2 separate regions of the Homo sapiens genome follow, and region 1 is linked to region 2. The links come from fine-mapping of genetic effects on gene expression. Tissue or cell type: whole blood. Region 2 holds a variant in brackets; the other region holds the start of a gene. All regions are shown on one strand. Distances are from middle to middle.

Region 1 (11,004 bases), 21 kb after region 2:
GTAGAGGCTGCATTTCCCAGTCTTGTTAGCATAAAGATAGGGCAATATGTCTAGCTCTGCCAATGGAAGGTAAGCAGAAGTTATTAAGAAGCAGGGGTGCAGCCAAGCATGATGGCTCATGCCTGTAATCCCAGCACTTTGAGAGGCCGAGGTGGGTGGATCACCTGAGGTCAGGAGTTCTAGACCAGCCTGGCCAACATGAGAAAACCTGATCTCTACTAAAAACAAAAATTAGCCAGGCATCGTGGTGCATACCTGTAGTCCCAGCTACCCAGCTACTAGGGAGGCTGAGGCAGGAGAATCGCTTGAACCCGGGAATCGGAGATTGCAGTGAGCCGAGATAGGACCACTGCATTCCAGCCTGGGCGACAGAGTGAGACTCCATCTCAAAATATATATATATATATAAATAAAAACAAAAAAAGAAGAAGCAGGGGTGAGGGGTGCTTTTCTCTTCCCATCGCCAGAAGACAAGACTCCATAGCATTATGGTTCCCGCACACAGTTTGGCAACCACAGTGAATGCACAGAGTGTACCTGAGAATATAGTAAATACTCATGGGAAACAGTAGTAGCACAATACACTATAATCAATCAACGGAGCTCTCTGGGATACTTTAAATGTTTGAGGGACATGTAGCACCATCTGTAGGATACTGAGCAAATGACTACTATTGCATTGTGTGGCTCTAACTACTTAGTAAAAAGAACTGTTAGGTATTTCTTTTGGTCTGCAGCCCTAAAAATATATTACTGACACTCTACGGGCACTATAAACCAAGAAAGCATGGGAACTTCTGCCTTAGAGAATGACAGAGCCACAAGATGAAAGATAGGTGGGTTCTTAAATTTCTACATGGAGGAAAGCCACTTACTGATTAAGAACTCCCACACTGGACTGGCATACAAGACACCAATAAACTTTTGTTGCATTAATCCAATGAACTTTTGGAGTTTATCTGTCATCATAGCTAGCATTACATTAACTAATACACAGAGTATCTGGAAATCTAAATCCGAGGTCAAGGTAAAGCTGCAGATACCAACAGCAGATGCCTATGCACTACAATTCCTGCAGACCGAATGAGAAAAAAAGCTATATCTTAGTGGAGGCCACTAAGCCAAGAGTATGACTCACAGAGTAAATGTCCCTTATTTAGTACCAAGTCAATACATAAGCCCCCGAAGCTAAGGTCATCCTTAAGGAAAAATGGTAAGGACATAAAGAAGGCAAAGGACACTAAGGATTTGGTCCAAATGAAATTGCGCAACCTTAAATCTGGTATTTAAAAATTTTTACTGGTTGGACTCACACCTGTAATCCCAGCATTTTTGAAGGCCAAGGTGGGAGGATCACTTGAGCCCAGGAATTTGAGACCAGCCTGAGCAACATAGTGAGATCCTGTCTTACAAAAAATTAAAAAAAAAAAAAAATTACCATCAGTGGATGTGTTTGAATGCTAAGTTAATTACACTTTTTTGGAAAAGAAACAAATTTACATTTTGGATATTTCATTCTGGAACTGTAACTGTAAAATTTTCAATCCACCACATACATGTTACAGCAAGGAAAGAAATATAGAGGCCAATAGAGACCACTATCTTTGTTTCTGCAACTGGTCACCTGGCTATAGATAATTATATGTGACTTCTCTTCTCCACCTTTTTTCCATGTTCCCCTTGCTTTGGGCCAGCAACTCAGCTGCTGGGATTCTTTGCCCATTGGGATGAGGAGTCTGAGTCCCCAGTGGTGCTTCCCAGGTGAGATTATGCTCCCAGTCCTTTCATTTTGTTTTGGTTTTGGTTTTTTGAGATGGAATCTCTCTCTGTCATCCAGGCTGGAGTGCAGTGGTGCGATCTCAGCTCACTGCAACCTCTGCCTCCTGGGTTCAACTGATTCTCCTGCATCAGCCTCTCAAGTAGCTGGGATTACAGTCATGAGCCACTATGCCCAGCTAATTTTTGGTATTTTTAGTAGAGACGAGGTTTCACCATGTTGGCCAGGCTAGTCTCGAATTCCTGATCTCAAGTGATCCACCCAACTCGGCCTCCTGAAGTGCTGGGATTACAGGAGTGAGCCACCGCATCCAATGCTCCTACTCCTTTTGATAGTAAGGCAAAATTACCAATACTACAATCCTATTCTTAACCATTCAAACATATTTTTATGTTTTAAGAGGAGCTCAAAAAAGACCAATTGCAATTCAGTAATGCACTTTCAAATTCCAATTCAATAATACTTCCTTATTGTGTCTCCTGGTAGAAACACCTCCACCCTTGGCTCACCAAAAGTTGGCATTCCTGCACCAAAAGTTGGTACAGGAAGAGAATAATGGACGCTGAGTAGCCCCAAACCACACAAGTCCATTATAGAAGTGATGAGAACATTTCGCAGCTGGCATCTTTGGTTCTCCTCATTGCAGCTTTAGTATGTGAATCCAAAAAATCTGAGACAGGTCTCAGTCAATTTAGAAAGTTTATTTTGCCAAAGTTAAGGACACACCAGGGCCACAGCCTCAGGAGGTCCTGACAACATGTGCCTAACGTGGTCGGGGTACAGCTTACTTTTATACATTTTAGGGAGATATGAGACATCAGTCAATACGTGTAAGATGTACATTGGTTCAGTATGGTAAGGCGAGACAACTCAAAGTGGGGTATTCCATGTTAGAAGTAGAAAAGAGACAAAATGTTACATTCTTTTGAATCCTTGATCAGCCTTCCACAGAATACACAACTTAGTCTGGCCCAGGGAGTCTGCATTTTTACATAAACAATACTGCAGAGGAAGCAATCAGATGTGCATTTGTCTCAGGTGAGCCTCAGAGGGATGACTTTTAAGTTCTGTCTTCCCTTTGTCCACAGGGAATTTCCTTGTGGGCAAACTGTGAGGGAGGTATGTAGCTTCTTATCTTTGTAGCTATCTTATTTCAGAATAAAATGAGAGGCAGGTTTGCCTGACATAGTTTCCAGCTTGACTTTTCCCTTGGCTTAGTGATTTTGGGGTCCCAAGATTTATTTTCCTAACTATGTGTGAGTTTTGCAGCTCATTTTCCTCCCAGATATGTAAAACTGGCATAATTTAAAGAAAGCAAGATTTATCATCTAATTCAGTGATTCTCAACTAGGGGGCAATTTTGCCCCCCTACGGGAGCATTTGACAATGTCTGGAGACATTTTCAATGGGGGTGCCACTAGCATCCAGTAGGTAAAGGCCAAGGGGTGTCCAGGACAACCCCCCCACAACAAAGAGTTGTCTGCTCCAAAATTTCAATAGTGCTGATGTGGAGAAGTCCTGATCCAATTAATTTGTTTATATGTATAATTTGCTCCCCACTACTGGAATGCAAGCTCTGCAAGGGCAGGGACTTTGTTTTGTCTACTGCTCTGTGCTTGGAACATGGGAGTCAACGAATATTTGATGACAAATAATAGATGAATGAATGCCTCAAGGTTCACATTAGGCATTTATATGCATCTTACTTCATCAGAACACTTGGCTCCTTGGATCAGAAGGGTTAGTAAGGTGAAGGAGGGTGGTATAGGGCAATATGACTCAAATATTTGGGGTGGCACCACTTCCTTGAACATCCTAATGTGGTTCTCTTCCCATCATAACACAACCAAAATTTTCATTTTTGGTTCATTTTAATTTTCTAACTTGAAGGAAAATGTGCAACTTTTACAATGTCCTCGATGTCTTCATTTTAATTTTTCTTCATTTAAATTTTCTAACGAAGGAAAATGTGCAACTTTTACAATGTCCTCGATGTCTTCGTTTTAATTTTTCTTCATTTTAATTTTCTAACTTGAAGGAAAATGTGCAACTTTTACAATGTCCTCGATGTCTTCATTCATTAAATGCCATTAAACATAATTGTGACTTTAATTTTAATTAAATAAAAATGAGTTGGAGTCTCCCTGTGTGGCACAGGCTTGTCTTGAACTTTTGGGCTCCGGTGATCCTCCCACCTTGGCCTCCCAAAGTGTTGGGATTACAGGCATGAGCCATGGTGCCTGGACCACAAAATTGTGACTTGTGTTTCACAATTTGCACAGAGATTTGATGAACTTTTAGGTTCTTTATCTTTTCTAACAATTACATTTTCCCCGTTATGAAAGGTACTGCTTATTCTCTCTTCTCATCTCTCCTTGACACCTAGGTTAAGCTTAGAAGAAAGGCCAAGAGGAAGAGTGGGGTGCTGAGGTTCCCATCTGAGAGGTGGCTTGTTCCCTCCTTCCCCCTCTCCCACTGCACCTTAAACATAGCTCTAACACAGTAGAATGGCAAGTTCTGTGTACTTGTTTATCTATATGGCTTAGTTCTTTTTTAAAAAAATTATTATTGTTATTATTATTATTTTTTTTTGAGACGAATCTCGCTCTGTCGCCCAGGCTGGAGTAGAGTGGCGCGATCTCGGCTCACTGCAAGCTCCGCCTCCCGGGTTTACGCCATTCTCCTGCGTCAGCCTCCCAAGTAGCTGGACTACAGGCGCCCGCCACCGTGTCCGACTAATTTTTTGTATTTTTAGTAGAGACGGGGTTTCACCGTGTTAGCCAGGATGGCCTCGATATCCTGACCTCGTGATCTGCCCGCCTCGGCCTCCCAAAGTGCTGGGATTACAGGCGTGAGCCACGGCGCCCGGCTGGCTTAGTTCTTTTTGTCTGTGGTGAGGCATGCTCTTAGCTGTCTTTATATCACTGGTATCTGGAGTATAAGATGGGCCCAGCCAATGCTGAGTGAATGAATGAAATGCCTTTTGCCTACTTCACAATGTCACCTAGGGCACCCGGTGCCAACTTCACAATATCACCCAAGGCATAACTTTTGACTACTTCACAATGTCACTTTTAACTGACCCCACACAGAAATGGGGACTCCACAGAAACGTAGGAGTGTGTCTAGTGTCAGCCCCGTCTGAATCACTCTCCTGTGGTGGCTCCAGCCAACGAAGAGGAAGCAAAAAGGATAAAAAATCTGAGCTACAGCGCATGGATTTAGGTTAAACAGCCTGGGAATGAGGGGTACGCTAATCGCTGAGGAAAACGCACCTGTGGAGGCCTCTCCAGAAACAGCAGAGGATCCGAGCTGCGTGTAGGCAGGGCGCGCATGTCACCCTGGCCCGGGCGCCTGGTCCGCTGCTGGAGATAAATGGTCGACCCCGGAGGGAGAGGCTAGTAGGGGTGTTGATGTGAACTGATTCGCCCAAGCCTTGGGCCGCAAAACTGCGAAAGAAAGCGGCAGGCAGCCTCTGCATTTCCCAGAAGTGCAGCTGGGGAACTTTCCCAGACCGGCCCAGGGGTTGCTAGAGGGTCAGACGTAAAGGATCCGCCTTTCCTAGGCGGGGTGGGCCCCAGGCCACCACGTGAAGCGTCCTCGCCCCTCAGAGCCCGGAGCAGGCCGGGCTCAAGAAAGAGGAAAGTTGAGGACGCCCCACCTCGGAGAGGCGGCGCCCCTGAGTAGGCCAGGAGCCTCTCTTGCAACTTCTGCCACCGCGGGCCACCGCGGCCGCCTGATCCCGCAGAGGAAGGTCGCGGCCGTGGAGCGATGACCCGCGGCGGTCCGGGCGGGCGCCCGGGGCTGCCACAGCCGCCACCGCTTCTGCTGCTGCTGCTGCTGCTGCCGCTGTTGTTAGTCACCGCGGAGCCGCCGAAACCTGCAGGTGAGCAGAGCGCGCCCTGGGCGGGGGGCGCCCGGGGAGGCTCCTAGGAGCCTGTTAGCGCCCGTGCCCCGCGTCCGGCCGAGTTGACGTCCAGCGGGCGTCTGGTTCCTGGGTGAACTCAGAGAAACGCGCCTCCGGCCGGCGGTCTCGCTCCAGCCCTGCGGCTGCGCAGCGAGGGCACTTGAGAAGGGCATGGCGAGTGCGTCTGCCAACTTTACAAGTTTTGGCCCGAATTCTTGGCCAACAAATCGGTTCGCTCCTGCGCCGATTCTTGGCCCACAGAGCCTGGGCTGGTCTTAAAAACTCCAGCCAATGGGCATCTAAATATATTTATCCAGATTGTAGGGAGGTATGGTTCCGGCTTGCCATTTGTTTTGTGTTTTAAAAATTTACATTGACTTTGGCTTAAAATCACGATTGCACGATTGTCAGTTTGATACGTGCCTGGCAGTGGGCTTAAGGGCCTTTTGGTTTTGTTGTTGTTGTTGAGACAGAGTCGCTCTCTGTGGGCGACGCTGGAGTGCAATGGTGTGATCTCGGCTCACTGCAACTTCCGCCTCCCGGGTTCAAGCGATTCTCCTCCCTCAGCTTCCCAAGTAGCTGGGATTACAGGCGTCAGCCACCATGCCCAGCTAATTTGTGCATTATTAGTAGAGACGAGGTTTCACCATGTTGGACAGGCTGGTCTCGAACGCCTGACTCGGGCGATCCGCCTGCCTCGGCCTCCCAAAGTGCTGGGATTACAGGCATGAGCCACCGCGCCCGGCAGTTTTTTTTTTTTTTTTTTAATATATAATCCTAAATAGGATTATATTCCCCATTCTGCAGATGAGAAAAGTGAGATTGATCAGAAGTAATTCGCATAAAGATAACACAGCAAATAAGACAGAGTTAGGGGATGCCAGAGGGCATTTTCTTAACTACTTCCCTCTTGGAAAAACAGGTTTTATCTCTACAGGTATTCATGCAAATCTACATCCTTTGCCAAAATTAAATTAAATTAAATTAAAAAGCCTTGGATTTATGATTTCCGTTCCTAAGGAGGTGAAGATTATGAACTGTAACTAAGGGACTTGAAAGAATTCTAAAGTAATAATAAGAGAATTAATTTTGTCTTATTTCATAATCCCCTTTTCTGTGCTGACCTTGTACAAGAGTAGGGTGGGGCTTGGGGGAGGATGCCCCTTCCTAAATATGTGTACTGATTCTTATTACACTACCTTCCATCATCAAGAGCCTTCGTTTTTGAGACTTGCTTAGTTATCACTCTTCAATCTTAAATCTTTCCAGTCTGTGGGATCAGATGTACCCACAGGCTCCTGACTCGTGATTTTCTGTGTTCTTTGCCTAAACTATGGAGGTGGCCTTGGTGTCTACTTCTAGTCTAGGGAGACAGCTCATTCAGAGGTACCTGGGGGAGGCTGGGGAGGGTCCCAAAAGTGGAGGTAGCTTTTGTGTTTGGAATGCTGGCTAAAATCTTTATTCCTTTTCTGTTTTTTTGGACGAGTGAGATTAAGTGTTTTTGTAGGTGGAGGGGGCAGCCTGAGGAGTGAGACAGGCGTTGTTTTTCTGAAGATGGAGCACTATTTATTCAAGAAGGTACCACCTTGTAAGAAACTGCATCTTAAACAGTTCCTCCAACAGGAAGCTGACTCCATGCTTGGAGGTTCTGGAGCCAAGGCAGAAAGTAAGGACATTTCTGAGATGAAGTGATCCTGACAGCACCATGCCCAGCAATCTGGAAAGGATTCTTACTTACCTAGGTGTTAAGGACATCTGGTGATGCCACACTATTTCAGCAGATGAGATCTCTGTTTCCTTTGTCCTACCCACATTAATCTGTTTTCCCTTGAGGCTTTTTGGGTCTTTGTCTTTACCCTTCTACTAGCCTGCGAACAACCAAAGAGTAAAGAACTGGGACTTGCTACCTCTCACTTGTCATGTGTTCTCTGAAGTACCCAGCTCAGTACCCTGAACTTAGTAGGAATTCAGTAAACACTAAAGGGATTGCATGTCCATCCCCTTGGAATGGATTTTATATCCACTCATATGCATCTATCTATCCAAAAACAACTTCTTCAATTTTTAATTTTACTTTTTTTTTTTTTTACTATTATTTCCTATTATTTTTATTTTCCCCCCAGGCTGGGTACAGTGGCGTGATCTCGGCTCACTGCAACCTCCACCTCTTTGGTTCAAGCAATTCTCCTGACTCAGCCTCCCGAGTAGCTGGGATTACAGGCACACACCACCACGCCCAGCTAATTTTTATATTTTTTGTAGAGATGGGATTTCAACAGGTTGGACAGACTAGTCTCGAACTCCTGGCCTCAGGTGATCTGCCCGCCTCAGCCTCCCAAAGTGCAGGGATTACAGGTGTGAGCTACCATGCCCGGACACTTTTAGTTAATTCTTGCATATTCTTCAATTTGTAAAGGTTACTCTATAGTTTTATTATTCCAGAAGTTGACAAATAATTGCACAGTCATTCTAGCCAAATCTTTCAAGCTATGATTTCAGACATATGGTGTTGCGTTTATCTTTCCAGACCAAAAGCCCCATAATTGATTTTAGAAGGTCCTTATATAATTTTTTCTAAGTGGTATGTATAGAGAAGTCAGGTGGTCACTAGAGAAATAAATCATACCTTTATCTGGTTCTGAAAAAGTTTAACATCTTGGAAGTCATTCAGTCTCCATAAGGTGATTTGGCAGACCTATGATTGGAGTCAGTTTCAGTTGATCCTTTAACTCTGCAGACATTCTTTTAGGGTTGGCTGCTGAGAGACTCATAATATGGTATGTATATTGGTAAAACTGGTTCAGAATCTGGCCCTCGGCCTTGCAGGGCTAGACTCCAGAAATTCAGTCTTTCTACTGCTCCATATCTGATCACAGCTAAGAAAGCTGATTCACCCTGATATACACCCAAGTCTATTCATCAGACTTAGCATAATTTTTAGTTAGAAATATAACTGTCAGGCAGACTGGATATTTGTGAGGTCTGCTCTAGGCACTTTCTCACTGTAATCAAACCACATGGGGGTAGATAACATCACAGATTGTCAGGCTGGAGGCCTGATTTGTCTGTCTCCTGGTAGGCATCATACACTTGAGTCAGCCGAGAGAGTGCCCCTCCACTGCATGGTGCTTGCCTAGCATTGCTGGTCCCTGATTTTGGGACACTGCCTTTTCCACATTGCCATGGCTTACCAGTGTCCACTTGAGAATAACAGTTAATACCTTTATCTGGTTGTCAAAAAGTTTAATATCCTGGAACATTCAGTCTCCATAAGCTGATTTGGCAGACCTATGACTGGGGTCAATTTCAGTTGCTCCTTTAACTCTGCAGACATTCTTATTTATTCATTTATTTGGAGATAGGGCCTTGCTCTGTCACCCAGGCTGGAGTACAATGGTACGATCATAGCTCATTGCAGCCTCAGAGTAGATGGGACTACAGGTGCACACCACCACACTTGGCTAATTAAAAAAAAAAATTATTTGTAGAGATAGAGTCTCACTATGTTACCCAGATTGATCTCAAACTCTTGCTCGCAAGTGATCCTCCCACAGGTTCATTTCCCAAAGCCCTGGGGTTCAGGCGACCGCCACTGCACCTGGTCTCTGAGGACATTCTTATTTCCAAATTCATTCGACATAAGGCCTCACAGTTGCTCAGTATGTTCATTCTTTACACGGAAGTCCTTCATTCTTGGAAGTATAGTATTAGAGAGGTAACACAGAATTCCAGCAAGAGGAAATCCTTTGGAACCCTAATGCCTGTGTTTGAAGCCTGACTCCAACACTTGCCATGTGACCTTTAGTCAGTTATTTTCTCTATATGTACTTTGGTTTCCTCAACTGGAAGATGGGTATTATAAGTGTCTCTATCTCATGGGGCTGTTGTGAGAAACACTGTGCCTGACATGCAGTAAGTGCTGTATAATTGAGTGGCCACTGAAGTTGTTTTTCTCTAAAAAGTTATCATGTCTTGATAAGGCAGGCAGGATTGAAGATGATAATCCATGTGCTTTGAAGTAATTTTTTTTTTGTTGTTTTTTTGAGACAGAGTCTTGCTCTGTTGCCCAAGCTGGAGTGCAAAGGCGCGATCTTGGCTCCGTGCAACCTCCGCCTCCCAGGTTCAAGTGATTCTCATGCCTCAGCCTCCCGAGTAACTGGGATACAGGCATGCACCACCATGCCTGGTTGATTTTTGTATTTTTTGTAGAGATGAGGTTCACCATTTTGCCCAGGTTGGTCTCAAACTCCTGGCCTCAAGTGCATCGCCTGCCCTGGCCTCCCGAAGTGCTGAGATTACAGGTGTGAGCCATCGTGCCCAGTCCCAACTTGAACATTTTCTTGTGCTCTCCCTTTATCAACTTGTTTGCATAATGTACACAAGATAAATTCCAGAACAAAGTCTGAAGGAAGTGCCCACTTATCTTCATTATTAAACTTTGTTTCCTGGTCCTTCTGAAAACATAAATTTGGTAGCAAAGATAAAAATCTTTAGAAGAATATTTAAAAGGATCCTCCTTCAGTGTTTACATTGAAGTAAAACAATTTTTTTAAAAAAAATTCATGGTGGCTTATTTTTATAATATATATGCTAAGAAACATATGAACTTTGTCTTGAGTGTTGACATGCAGAAAAGAAATTTTTGTTTTCATACTTCTTTAGACATGAATTTTACATTGTCACTTGTTATCCTTTGCTTTTGTTAGATTTCACATTATAAGGCATTAACTATGGAGACAGCAAAATAAAAGAGGTAGTGGTACCCTTCATGGAATAAAACCAAAGGGATTTATTTTCTTCAGCATTTTAAGTAATTTTTATGCATTTAGGTTTTGCCTTTCAAAAAAATGGAATGGAGTCTAGTTTATACAACTTATATGTTACAATCTTTCGAACATCCAGCTTGAAAATGTGACTAGAAAATGTGTTAATAATGTTATTACGGAGCTTCTTTTTACTACTGCAAAACAGGAATTAATGTGGTAAAAAATGAAATAGAGGTAGTGAAATTATGGGGAAATTTTAGCTTAAGACTTGAAACACTGTCTACACAGATAACATAATCATGTTCAGTTACAGTCTTTTTTTTTTTTTTTTTTTTGAGAGGGAGTCTCACTCTGTCACTCAGGCTGGACCGCAGTGCTGCAATCTCAACTCACTGTGACCTCCACCTCCTGGGTTCCAGCGATCCTCCTACCTCAGCCTCCCAGGTAGCTGGGATTACAAGCATGTGCCACCGCACCTGGCTAATTTTTGTATTTTTAAGTAGAGACGGGAGTTTCACCATATTGGGCAGGTGGGTCTCAAACTCCTGACCTCA
Region 2 (11,004 bases):
CATACACCACCATGCCCAGCTAATTCGTCTATTTTTTTTAGTAGAGACGGGATTTTTCCATGTTGGCCAGGCTGGTCTCCAACTCCTGGCCTCAGATGATCAGCCCACCTCAGCTTCCCAAAGTGCTGGAATTACAGGCGTGATCCACCGCGCCCAGCCTTAAAGACTTAATTTAAATGTACGACCCAAAACTATAACAACCCTGGAAGACGACCTAGGCAATACCATTCTGGACATAGGAACAGGCATAGATTTCATGATGAAGACGTCAAAAGCAATTGCAACAAAAGCAAAAATTGACAAATGAGATCTAATTAAAGGCTTCTGCACAGCAAAAGAAACTATCAACAGAGTAAGCAGACAGCCTACAGAATGGGAGAAAATATTTGTAAACTATGCATCTGACAAAGATCTAATATCCAGCACCTATAAGGAACTAAAACAAATGTATAGGAAAAAACAAAAAGTAGTCAAAGAGCAAGAACAGACAGTTTTCAAAAGAAGACATATATGCAGCCAACAAGCATATGAAAAAAAGCTTAATATCGCCGATCATTAGAGAAGTGCAAATCAAAACCATAGTGAGATACCATCTCATTCAAGTCAGAATGGCTATTAAAAAGTCAAAATAGCCCAGCATGGTGGCTCACGCCTGTAATCCCAACACTTTGGGAAGCTAAGGTGAGCGGATCACCTGAGGTCAGGAGTTTGAGACCAGCCTGGCCAACATGGCAAAAATCCCGTCTCTACCAAATACACAAATTAGCTGGGCATAGTGGCAAGTACCTGTAATCCCGGCTACTTGGGAGGCTGAGGCAGGAGAATCGCTTGAGCCTGAGAAGCGGAGGTTGCAGTGAGCTGAGATCACGTTGCTGCACTTCAGCCTGGGCAAGAGAGCAAGACTCCGTCTAACTAAACAACAACAACAACAAAAAAAAAAACAGATGCTGGCAAGGTTGTAGAGAAAAGGGAACGTTTATATACTGTTGGTGGGAGTATAAATTAGCTCAACCATTGTGGAAAACAGTGTGGTAATTCCTCAAAGGGCTAAAAACAGATCTATCATTCAGCTCAGCAATTCCATCACTGGGTATATACCCAAAGGAATATAAATCATTCTAACCATAAAGACACACACATGTGTACGTTCATTTGCACAGGAACAGAAAACCAAATACCACATTTTCTCACTTATAAGTGTGAGAGCTAAATAATGAGAACAAATGGACACATAGAGGGGAACAATACACGCTGGGGCCTATCAGAATGTGGAGGCTGGGAGGAGGATCAGGAACAATAACTATTGGGTAGTAGGCTTAATACCTGGGTGACAAAATAATCTGTATGACAAACTCCTATGACACATGTTAGCCTATATAACAAACCTGCACATGTACTCCTGAACTTAAAATAAAAGTTAAACAAAATGAATAACCTTAATGTAATCGTGAGAAAACATCAGGCCAACTCAAATTGAAGAACATTCTATTAAATACTTAGCCAGTTCTAAAACAATAGAGGAAATAGTGGGACCCTAAGAGGAATTGCTTTTATAAGGTTCTTAGGTCAAAGGACTAAGAAATGAAATAAATTTGAAGTTACAGAGACAACCATTGGAGGAACTGATAACATTGATAATGGAAGAGGCTAGAGAATAAGACTGAGAGGGTTGCAAGTGAGCTGACTCTTCATCTATCATAGTAGGAAATCAGTCATATAATGTCTCAGTTAGTAAAACAATAAACAACTGTAAAGGCATATTGTTGCAATTTATGGTAACAATCTTCAGAAGATGCAAAGGCGGGAAAAGTAAAAAGGGTCAACTCCAGAGACATGGGACTAGTGGAAGAGGAATGTCAGCTAGGTGACTTGCTTTTTATTATAATATTAATGATATTTTTATTTTTTAACCATCTACATTTATTACTTAGATTATTTGTAAGAAATAAATATTTTGTCATAAAAATTGAGGGTGATTATATTTTTTAAAGATTCAGAATTGTCTTTAAAATGTATTTTTTCTCATGTGTACAAAATGGCACTCAATTATAGAAGGAAAAATTAACCCATACAATTTTTTTCAGGAACCTAACTATTTGCACAAAATGAAGTATTCCTGTCCTTCTGAGAGTATATTTTGAATGATCATCTAGTCTGTTTTTATGACTAAAAAAGAGCAACAACAAAAATGATGTAGGAAATTGCTCCTTTTATGCCTGAGTCCCATGATTTTATTCAGCCAGCACATGGCAGGCCAGCTGTTGAATGATATATTCCAAAACGGTCTTGTTCTAATGGTGGTGATAAGCATTATAAAAATATAATAATATCCATTTTAGAATTCTCCTGGAGGAAGGCTTTGTATTTGCAGCAACAGCACATTGTTTCATGTTTGCTAAAAATGCCATCATCAATTTTCCATGCTTTTATGGAACATAAAACTTTATGTATGTGTACACACATGCAAAGACACCATACAGTGCAATCCCAGCTAAAATACATCATATCTTGCACCTTTAAATAACTGCAATTTGGCACTGTGTAGATTACTCCTAGGTCAAATCATTTTATGTATTAACCCAACCCCAGGGTAGATAGATTACATGGCAAAGAAAGCAGTGACATTGTCCTGGCTCAAATGTGTCCTAATATTTGGACAGATTTATGATTTACTACTCTTGTTTGTTGCAAAAAAAAAAAGAGTTATCATTTTCAGTTCTACATTTCTTTGGAAATAAGACCTGCCTTGTCGTTTATACAAGTACAGGTGTTTTGTAAGAGTGTACATTGCACAGGAGCCTTCTGCGGCTTCTACAGAGATTGTACCTTGCCCAGTCGCTCACTCAGCTCAAGAACAAAAGCAGTGGCCAGGCGCAGAGGCTCATGCCTGTAATCCAGCACTTTGAGAGGCCAAGGCAGGCGGATCATGAGGTCAGGAGATCTAGACCATCCTGGCTAACAGTGAAACCCCATCTCTACTAAAAATACAAAAAATTACCAGGCATGGTGGCACACGCCTGTAGCCCCAGCTACTCGGGAGGCTGAGGCAGGAGAATCGCTTGAACCCAGGAGGCAGAGGTTGCAGTGAGTCAAGATCATGCCACTGCACTCCAGCCTCGGCTACAGAGCCAGAGTCTGTCTCAAAAAAAAAAAAAAAAAAAAGCAGTAGAGAGCCAGTGCTTCTCAGTCTGTGATGAAGGATGAAGGGGTATTTTGCTTTTTTCCATTTCACCTCTGTCTCAGAATAATACTTTTAAAACCACAAAAATTACATGCTTGCATGTTGTGACAATATCCAACTGCCATAAAAGTTTCCAGACGCTTACCCTCGCAAAGCCAGGAGAATCCAGAAACAATAACTAGTCACGACAGAGAACTATTTCAGAAAAACACCACAGCAGGCACTGCTTGGCACCTATACCATGAGAGACTGTATGCTGGAAACTGCACCACAGCTGCCCCGGAAGAACTAGTCGCCTCTGCCACCTGCCTGCCGAAAATACTATCTCCCCAAATGTGGTGGCCTCTTCACATTACTCCAAGATTTCCACTTCTTTGCAGCTAGGACTCTGTACATGATCTAGCTTCTGCTTGGCACAGTCCTAGCTGCAAAGAAGTCTGAGAAATGGTGTTAAACTTTCAAGGAGCCAAACTAGAAAGTGATTAAAAGGGAACCAATTTTCAGTATCTGCTTCAAGTTCTCTTGTATTGATAGAAATCCTTAGGTGCTCAGATCCTCTGTGTAAACTATCCCTCACCTAACCCCTGCCAAAAGGGTGAAAGAGCCCTGTGCATAGCTGTAAATATGCTCCCCTGGTCACAGCTGATTGGAATAAGGTAAACCACTAACCCCTGCAGGGCCAATTCCATTTTCTAGGAAATGCTGCAGGAAGTCACAAGTCAATCAGAGTTGAGTGATGAAGATGGCAGGTCATGTAGAGAGAGCCATGGCTGGAACTAAAATATTTTTTTTTTTTTTGAGATAGAGTCTCACTCTGTCACCCAGGCTGGAGTGCAGTGGCACAATCTCGGCTCACTGCAACCTCTACCTCCCAGGTTCAAGCAATCCTCCTGCCTCAGCCTCCCAAGTAGATGGGATTACAGGCACCCACCACCAGGCCCGTCTAATTTTTGCATTTTTCGTAGAGACGGGTTTTCACCATATTGGTCAGGCTGGTCTCGAGCTCCTGACCTCCGGTGATCCACCTGCCTCGGCCTCCCAAAGTGGAATTGAAATATTTCTACCAAGTGCAGATGGAAGAGGAAGAAACCAATCAGTGAGTAGGCCAAGAAGCATAAAGCAAATACCCTAAGCAAACAAGGAGGAGAGACTACACCACCTCTGAGAGTCAGAGTTTATCCTCACTTCCTAAATGCCAAAGAGTTGGCCTGGGCTTCCTGCTCTGGAGATTCAAGGGCAACCCTGGTACTTTCCTTTAGCAGAACTCCTCCAACCAGAAATTAACTGGTTTTGATGGCAGTGGCTGCTGCCATCACGCTGGCTGCGGCAAGGAGGCACGGGGCTGGGGCTGCACACTACATGGAGCCAGGGGGAGCCCCGCCCCTTCAGAGTTAAGTTGGGAGCTCCCCGAGTGCGGCAGCAGCTGCCCGAATGCAAGCTGCAAACCCAGGCCTCCCGCTCCACGGAGCAGGCAGAAGCCCTGCTCTCCTGGGTGGGGCTGCAACCGCCCAAACTGCTGCTGTGGATCTGAGCCTCCCTGGGTTCTTG[G/A]GGGGCCCAGGAGCAGGCAGAATCTCTGGCCATAGACTCAACGGCTGCAGACCTGGGCCTACCAGGCTCCACAGAACAGGCAGGCAGGAGCCTGAGACAAGCAGAAGCCCCACGCCTTCCGAGTTGCACCCTTCAGAGTTAGCGCAGGACCCAAGAGTCTTTGCAGCCTGCACCCCTGGGACCCCGGTAAGGGCCCCCCCCACCCTGTCTCTGCAGGCTTGGCGGTGTCTGCTCTCCCTGCCTGGCCTCTCTCCACTCCCTGTGCCCACTGTGATCTGGGAGCAGGGTTGAGGCTGAGCCCTGGGGCCAAGAATGGCAGAAGGAAACAGATAGATTCCCGGGTGGAAGGGGGCAGATCCCCAGTGAGGCTCCACCTTCAGGCCAGGGAGGAAGACATGTAGTCCTAACAAAAGGACTTGAAGGCCTGTGGGCTGCCAGTCCTGCTGACGGGAGTGGGGACTCATGGTGCTTCTTCTGGCTGCCCATGGCTGCCCATGGACCAATCAGCCTGCACTTCATCCCCTCTGAGGTCCATAAAAGCCCCGGGCTCAGTCAGAACAGGGCAGAGGATGGAGAGGACTCAGAGAGGGAGAAACAATGGGGTGGGATGACCCTCTGTAGACAGGAGCAACCCTCTTCAGGGCCTCCTTTCTGCTGAGAGCAGCAGACATTGGGAAGACCAGTAGCAGAAAGGAGCAGCCCTCTCCAGGGCCTCTGTTCTGCTGAGAGCTGAACACTCCACAGACAACCTACCTACAGAGAGGAGCTACCCACTGCGGCTCTCCTCTGAGCTGTTTTAACACTTAGTAAAGATCATCTTTGTCTTATTCACCCTTCACTTGTCTGTTACCTCATTCTTATTGGATGCAGGACAAGAACTCGGGCAAAGGCACCACCTGCCACAGAGGTTTCCAGCCAGAAAATTGACACCCCAGAGATCCTGTAACAGTTGCTGTGTTTGAAGTGTTCACTATTGTTGCTTTTTTTTTTCTACTTTAGCAAAGACGTGTCAGAATTATGATCATGGTCAGAAAGATAGCATCACTAACATACAAAAGTATGTGCTTAAGGAGGGTTGAATATTGTGGCTCATACCTTTAATCCCAACACTTTGGGAGGCTGAGGTGGAAGGATCCCTTGAGGCCAGGAGTTTGAGACCTGTTTGGGCAACATAGCCAGACCTAACTTCTAGTAGAAATTAAAAAAAAATTTTTTTTTAAGTAAGCAGGGCAAGGTAGCTCATGCCTGTAATCCCAACACTTTGGAAGGCCAAGGCAGGCAAATCACTTGAGCTCAGGAGTTGGAGACCAGCCTGGGCAACTTGTTGAAACCCTGCCTCTACAAAAAGTACACGAATTAACCAGACATGGTGGCATGCTTGTGGTCCCAGCTACTCTGGAGGCTGAGGTGGGAAAATCGCTGGAGCCTGGGAGGTTGAGGGTGCAGTGAGCTATGATCACACCACTGCACTCCAACCTGGGTGACAGAGGGAAACCTTGTCTAAAAAAATAATAATGTGGTAAAAAGGAATTTGAGAAAAATAAGAAGAAGAAGGGACAAGTGAGAGGTATGGAGAGGAATCAAGGATGGAAAATTAACCTGTTTCCAGGTTAATAACTGGTGAAAGAACCCTATCCTAATAGCTTGTTAACTGATGGGATGTAGTCTGCAGGTGACCAGGGCCTGTAGAAAGAGTGGAGGACTTCTGCGACAGGGCATAATGCCAGTGCCCAGGGCAGTGCCTGGACTGCTCACACCAAGAGGTTCCCGCTGGAGGTTCTACTCCGTTGTTGGCTGCTTGCTTGATTCCATGCCTAAAGAGTACAGAGGGGATTGTTGGGAACCTGCTGCTATCATAAAGCAATTGGAGGGCCTGGTGGCACACGCTGGTAGTCCCAGGTACTTAGGAGGCTGAGGCACGAGAATTGCTTGAACCAGGGAGGTGGAGGTTGCAGTGAGCCAAGATCATGCCCCTGTACTCCAGCCTGGGCGACAGAGAGATACTCTGTCTTAAAAAAATGAAAATAAAGCACTTGGAGAAGAACTAGAGTACCCATACTCTGGAAATGGAGCTGGGCACACTGGAACAGGCCAAGCTAGGCAGGAAGGAGGGGCACACCCCTCTTACACCTCAGTGCCTTCTCCTTTTGGCTTGAGCTTGTTCATATCTGTTCCCATGCCTTCCTTCCTCCTAACTACATATGATCTGTCTTTTGGACTCAGCTTGAATTCCACCTCCTCTAAGAGCCCCTTCAGACTAGAACATATGTCTTCTTCCCCTAACTTCCTGGGGTATTTATTGGTATTAACTATCACTGGGCACTTATCTGTGGAAGCTCTGTTTTGTTTTTGTTTTGTTTTGTTTTTTTGAGACGGAGTCTCATTCTGTCACCCAGGCTGGAGTGCAGTGGTGCAGTCTTGGCTCACTGCAACCTCCGCCTCCCAGGTTCATCCAATTCTTGTGTCTCAGTCTCTGAGTAGCTGGGATTACAGGCACACACCACCATGCCCAGCTAATTTTTGTATACTTTGTAGAGATGGGGTTTCATCATGTTGCCCAGGCTGGTCTTGAATTCCTGAGCTCAAGCGATCCACCTGCCTCGGCCTCCCAAAGTGCTGGGATTACAGGTGTGAGCCACCATACCCGGCCAGTGGAAGCTTTGTTCTCATGTGTGCATGACATATGCCACCAACTACTCTGTGAGTGCCCATTTAAGAAGGAAGCGATGTAGTCCTAAACAAAAATACAAAACTAAACCTAAACAGAAAGTCCATCTCATAGCATTTTATATACATTATGCATATATGAAATTATACATATGTATATATAAAATGTATGTGTGTATATATGAATATATAATGAATATATATGAACATATATATGAATATACATGAATATATAATGAATATATATGAATATATATATGAATATATGAATATATATGAATATATATGTATATATGAATATATATGAATATATATGAACATATATATGAATATATATGAACATATATATGAATATATATGAACATATATATGAATATATATGAATATATATGAACATATATATGAATATATATGAATATATATGAACATATATATGAATATATATGAACATATATATGAATATATATGAATATATGAATATATATGAACATATATGAACATATATGAACATATATGAATATATATGAATATATATGAACATATATATGAATATATGAATATATATGAATATATATATGGACATACATATGAGAATATATATATGGACATACATATGAGAATATATATATGGACATACATATGAGAATATATATATGGACATACATATGAGAATATATATATGGACATACATATGAGAATATATATATGGACATACATATGAGAATATATATATGGACATACATATGAGAATATATATATGGACATACATATGAGAATATATATATGGACATACATATGAGAATATATATATGGACATACATATGAGAATATATATATGGACATACATATGAGAATATATATATGGACATATATATGAGAATATATATATGGACATATAAATGAGAATATATATATGAATATATGAGAATATATATATGAATATATGAGAATATATATATGAATATAGATGAATATATATGAATATATGTATGAATATATATATGAATATATGTATGAATATATGTATGAATATGTATGAATATATATGAATATATATAAAGATTTATATATATATATGTACATGAAGGATTGGTTCCAGAACCCCTCATAAACCAAAATTCATAAATTCTCAAGTCCCTTATATAAAATGGGGTAGTATTTGCATATAGCCTATACACATACTACACATATTCACAAATACTTTAAATCATCTCTACATTATTTGCAATACATAATGCAATCTAAATGCTATGTAAATAGTTGTTATACTGTATTGCTTATATTATTTTTTATTGTTCTGTTTGTTAATATTTTCATTTGTCAATTGGTTAAATCTGAGGATGCAAAACCTGCAGATATGGAGGGCCAATTATATAAACAGTCATGCATATAACATTTTGGTCAATGATGAACCACATATGTGATTATTAGATTATAATGGAGCTGAAAAATTCCTGTTGCTCAATGACTTTGCAGCCATCATAAGGTAACGTGCAATGCATTACTCATGTGTTTGTGGTGATGCTAGTGTAAAGAAACATACTGCACTGCCAGTTATGTGAAAGTATAAGCACATACAATTATGTACAGTTATGTTATGTATTAATACTTGATAATAATAATAAGTGACTTTGTGACTGGTTTATGTATTTACTATAGTTTTATTGCTATTTTAGAGTTTACTCCTACTTATAAAAGAAAGTACTACAAAACAGCATGCTGGCCGGGCACGGTGGCTCACGCCTGTAATCCCAGCACTTTGGGAGGCGGAGGTGGCCGGCTCACCTGAGATCAGGAGTTCAAGACCAGCCTGACCAACATGGTGAAACTCTGTCTCTACTAAAAATACAAAAATTAGTTGGGCATGGTGGTGGATGCCTGTAATCCCAGCTATTCGGTAGGCTGAGGCAGGAGAATCACTGGAACCCGGGAGGCAGAGGTTACAGTAAGCTGAGATCGCGCCATTGCACTCCAGCCTAGGCAACAGAGCAAGACTCCGTCTCAAATGAATAAATGAATAAATAAATAATTAATTAATAAAATAGATAAAACAGCATGCCATGTTATGCAGGCAGCAGCCTCATAGGTCTCATGTTTACCACATCTCTTGATTGCATTATTTTCTCTTGTGCTTGATGTAACATGCTGTGTTCATCATGGCTCATAATCATTAAAAATTCACAGCTAATGCTGCCAATAAGAGGCCACATTAAGTGATTGACCAATTAAAGGTAACTGGGGATTACCAAAGTGGAAAATCAGTGATTGGTACTGTTCGCCAGTCAGGCATGTCCCATTTCACTATAGCTACAATCTTGATGAACAAGAACAAAGTCACAGAAACTGTTGAAGGATCTGCTTTATTGAAAGCAATGAGACTAACAAAAATTCTAGGAGGGCCTATATCAGATATGGAGAAATTTCTAATGACCTGGACTGAAGACCAGACACAGAAGTATATCCCTCTCAGCAACTATAGTCAAAGCAAATCTCTTCAGGACAATCGGTCAAAGCAAAAGGTTTGCAATGTTGAAAGAAAATATTAGACAGTTAGGATGTTGAGTTTACTGCTAGCTCTGGGTGGTTTAAACAATTCGGCCGGGCGCAGTGCCTCACACCTGTAATCCCAGCACTTTAGGAGGCCGAGACGGGCAGATCACCTGAGGTGAGGAGTTCGAGACCAGCCTGGCCAACTTGGAGAAACCCCGTCTCTACTAAAAGTACAAAATTAGCCAGGCGTGATGGCACATGCCTATAATCCCAGCTGCTCAGGAGGCTGAGGCAGGAGAATTACTTGAACCTGGGAGGCAGGGGTTGTGGTGAGCCAAGATTGCACCATTGCCCTCCAGCCTGGGCGACAAGAGCAAAACTCCATCTCAAAAAAATAATAATAATAAATTCAACAAGTATTACACATTGCATCGTGGTGAAAGTGAGTGGTGAGCCTGTGACTGCTGATGTGAAGGCAGCTGAATAATTTTTGAAAACTCTAGATAAGCTGATTATGAAGGAAGATTACTTGCCTGAGCAAATCTTCAATATGGATAACACCTCCCTATTCTGGAAATGGATGCCTGAGAGGACTTTCCTCTATGTGGAGGCCAAGTCAATGGTATTTCTGGGCTTTTGAGGACAGGATAACAGTCTTGCTTGGGGTCAGTGTTTCAGGGTACAATAGAAGCTCTTTGTGATCTGGCACAGTGAGAACCCTAGGGTTTTCAAGCATATCAATAAGCACACCCCGGCAGTGTGCTGCAGGACTAACAAGAAATTATGGGCCGGATGAAGTGGCTCATGCCTGTAATCCCAGCGCTTTGGGCCGCTGGGATCACCTGAGGTCAGGAGTTTGAGACCAGCCTGGCTAACATGGTGAAACCCTGTCTCTACTAAAAATACAAAAATTAGATGGGTGTGGTGGCATGCGCCTATTATCCCAGCTACTTGTGGAGGCTGAGGCAGGAGACTCGCTTGAACCTTGGGGGCGGAGGTTGTAGTGAGCCAAGATCATGTCACTTTACTCCAGCCTGGGCAAAAGAGCAAAACTCCATCTCAAAAAAAAAAAAAAAAAAAAAAAAAGGAATTATGGATAATATGGATGACCCAGCTCC

The links. PIP is the estimated chance that this variant, and not a neighbour inherited with it, causes the effect.
Region 1: PLBD1 starts here. The variant in region 2 is fine-mapped to the expression of PLBD1 in whole blood (INTERVAL, PIP above 0.99). The same link has a PIP of 0.9 or more in neutrophils.

Annotation. Positions count from the first base shown.
Region 1 is chr12:14,562,241-14,573,244 of GRCh38, reverse strand. It overlaps PLBD1 (phospholipase B domain containing 1), which reads left to right and starts at 5,362. Exons shown (of 11, transcript NM_024829.6): 1 at 5,362-5,663. The coding sequence starts at 5,549. It overlaps PLBD1-AS1 (PLBD1 antisense RNA 1), which reads right to left and starts at 5,513. Exons shown (of 6, transcript NR_120465.1): 1 at 5,439-5,513; 2 at 5,053-5,226. RefSeq lists silencers at 5,492-5,601, 6,341-6,517 and an enhancer at 5,415-6,096.
Region 2 is chr12:14,583,367-14,594,370 of GRCh38, reverse strand. All of the region lies in intron 2 of PLBD1-AS1 (PLBD1 antisense RNA 1), which reads right to left. Among named protein-coding and RNA genes, the nearest start is that of PLBD1, 21 kb to the right of the region's middle. The variant G/A (reference allele first, on the strand shown) is at 4,730.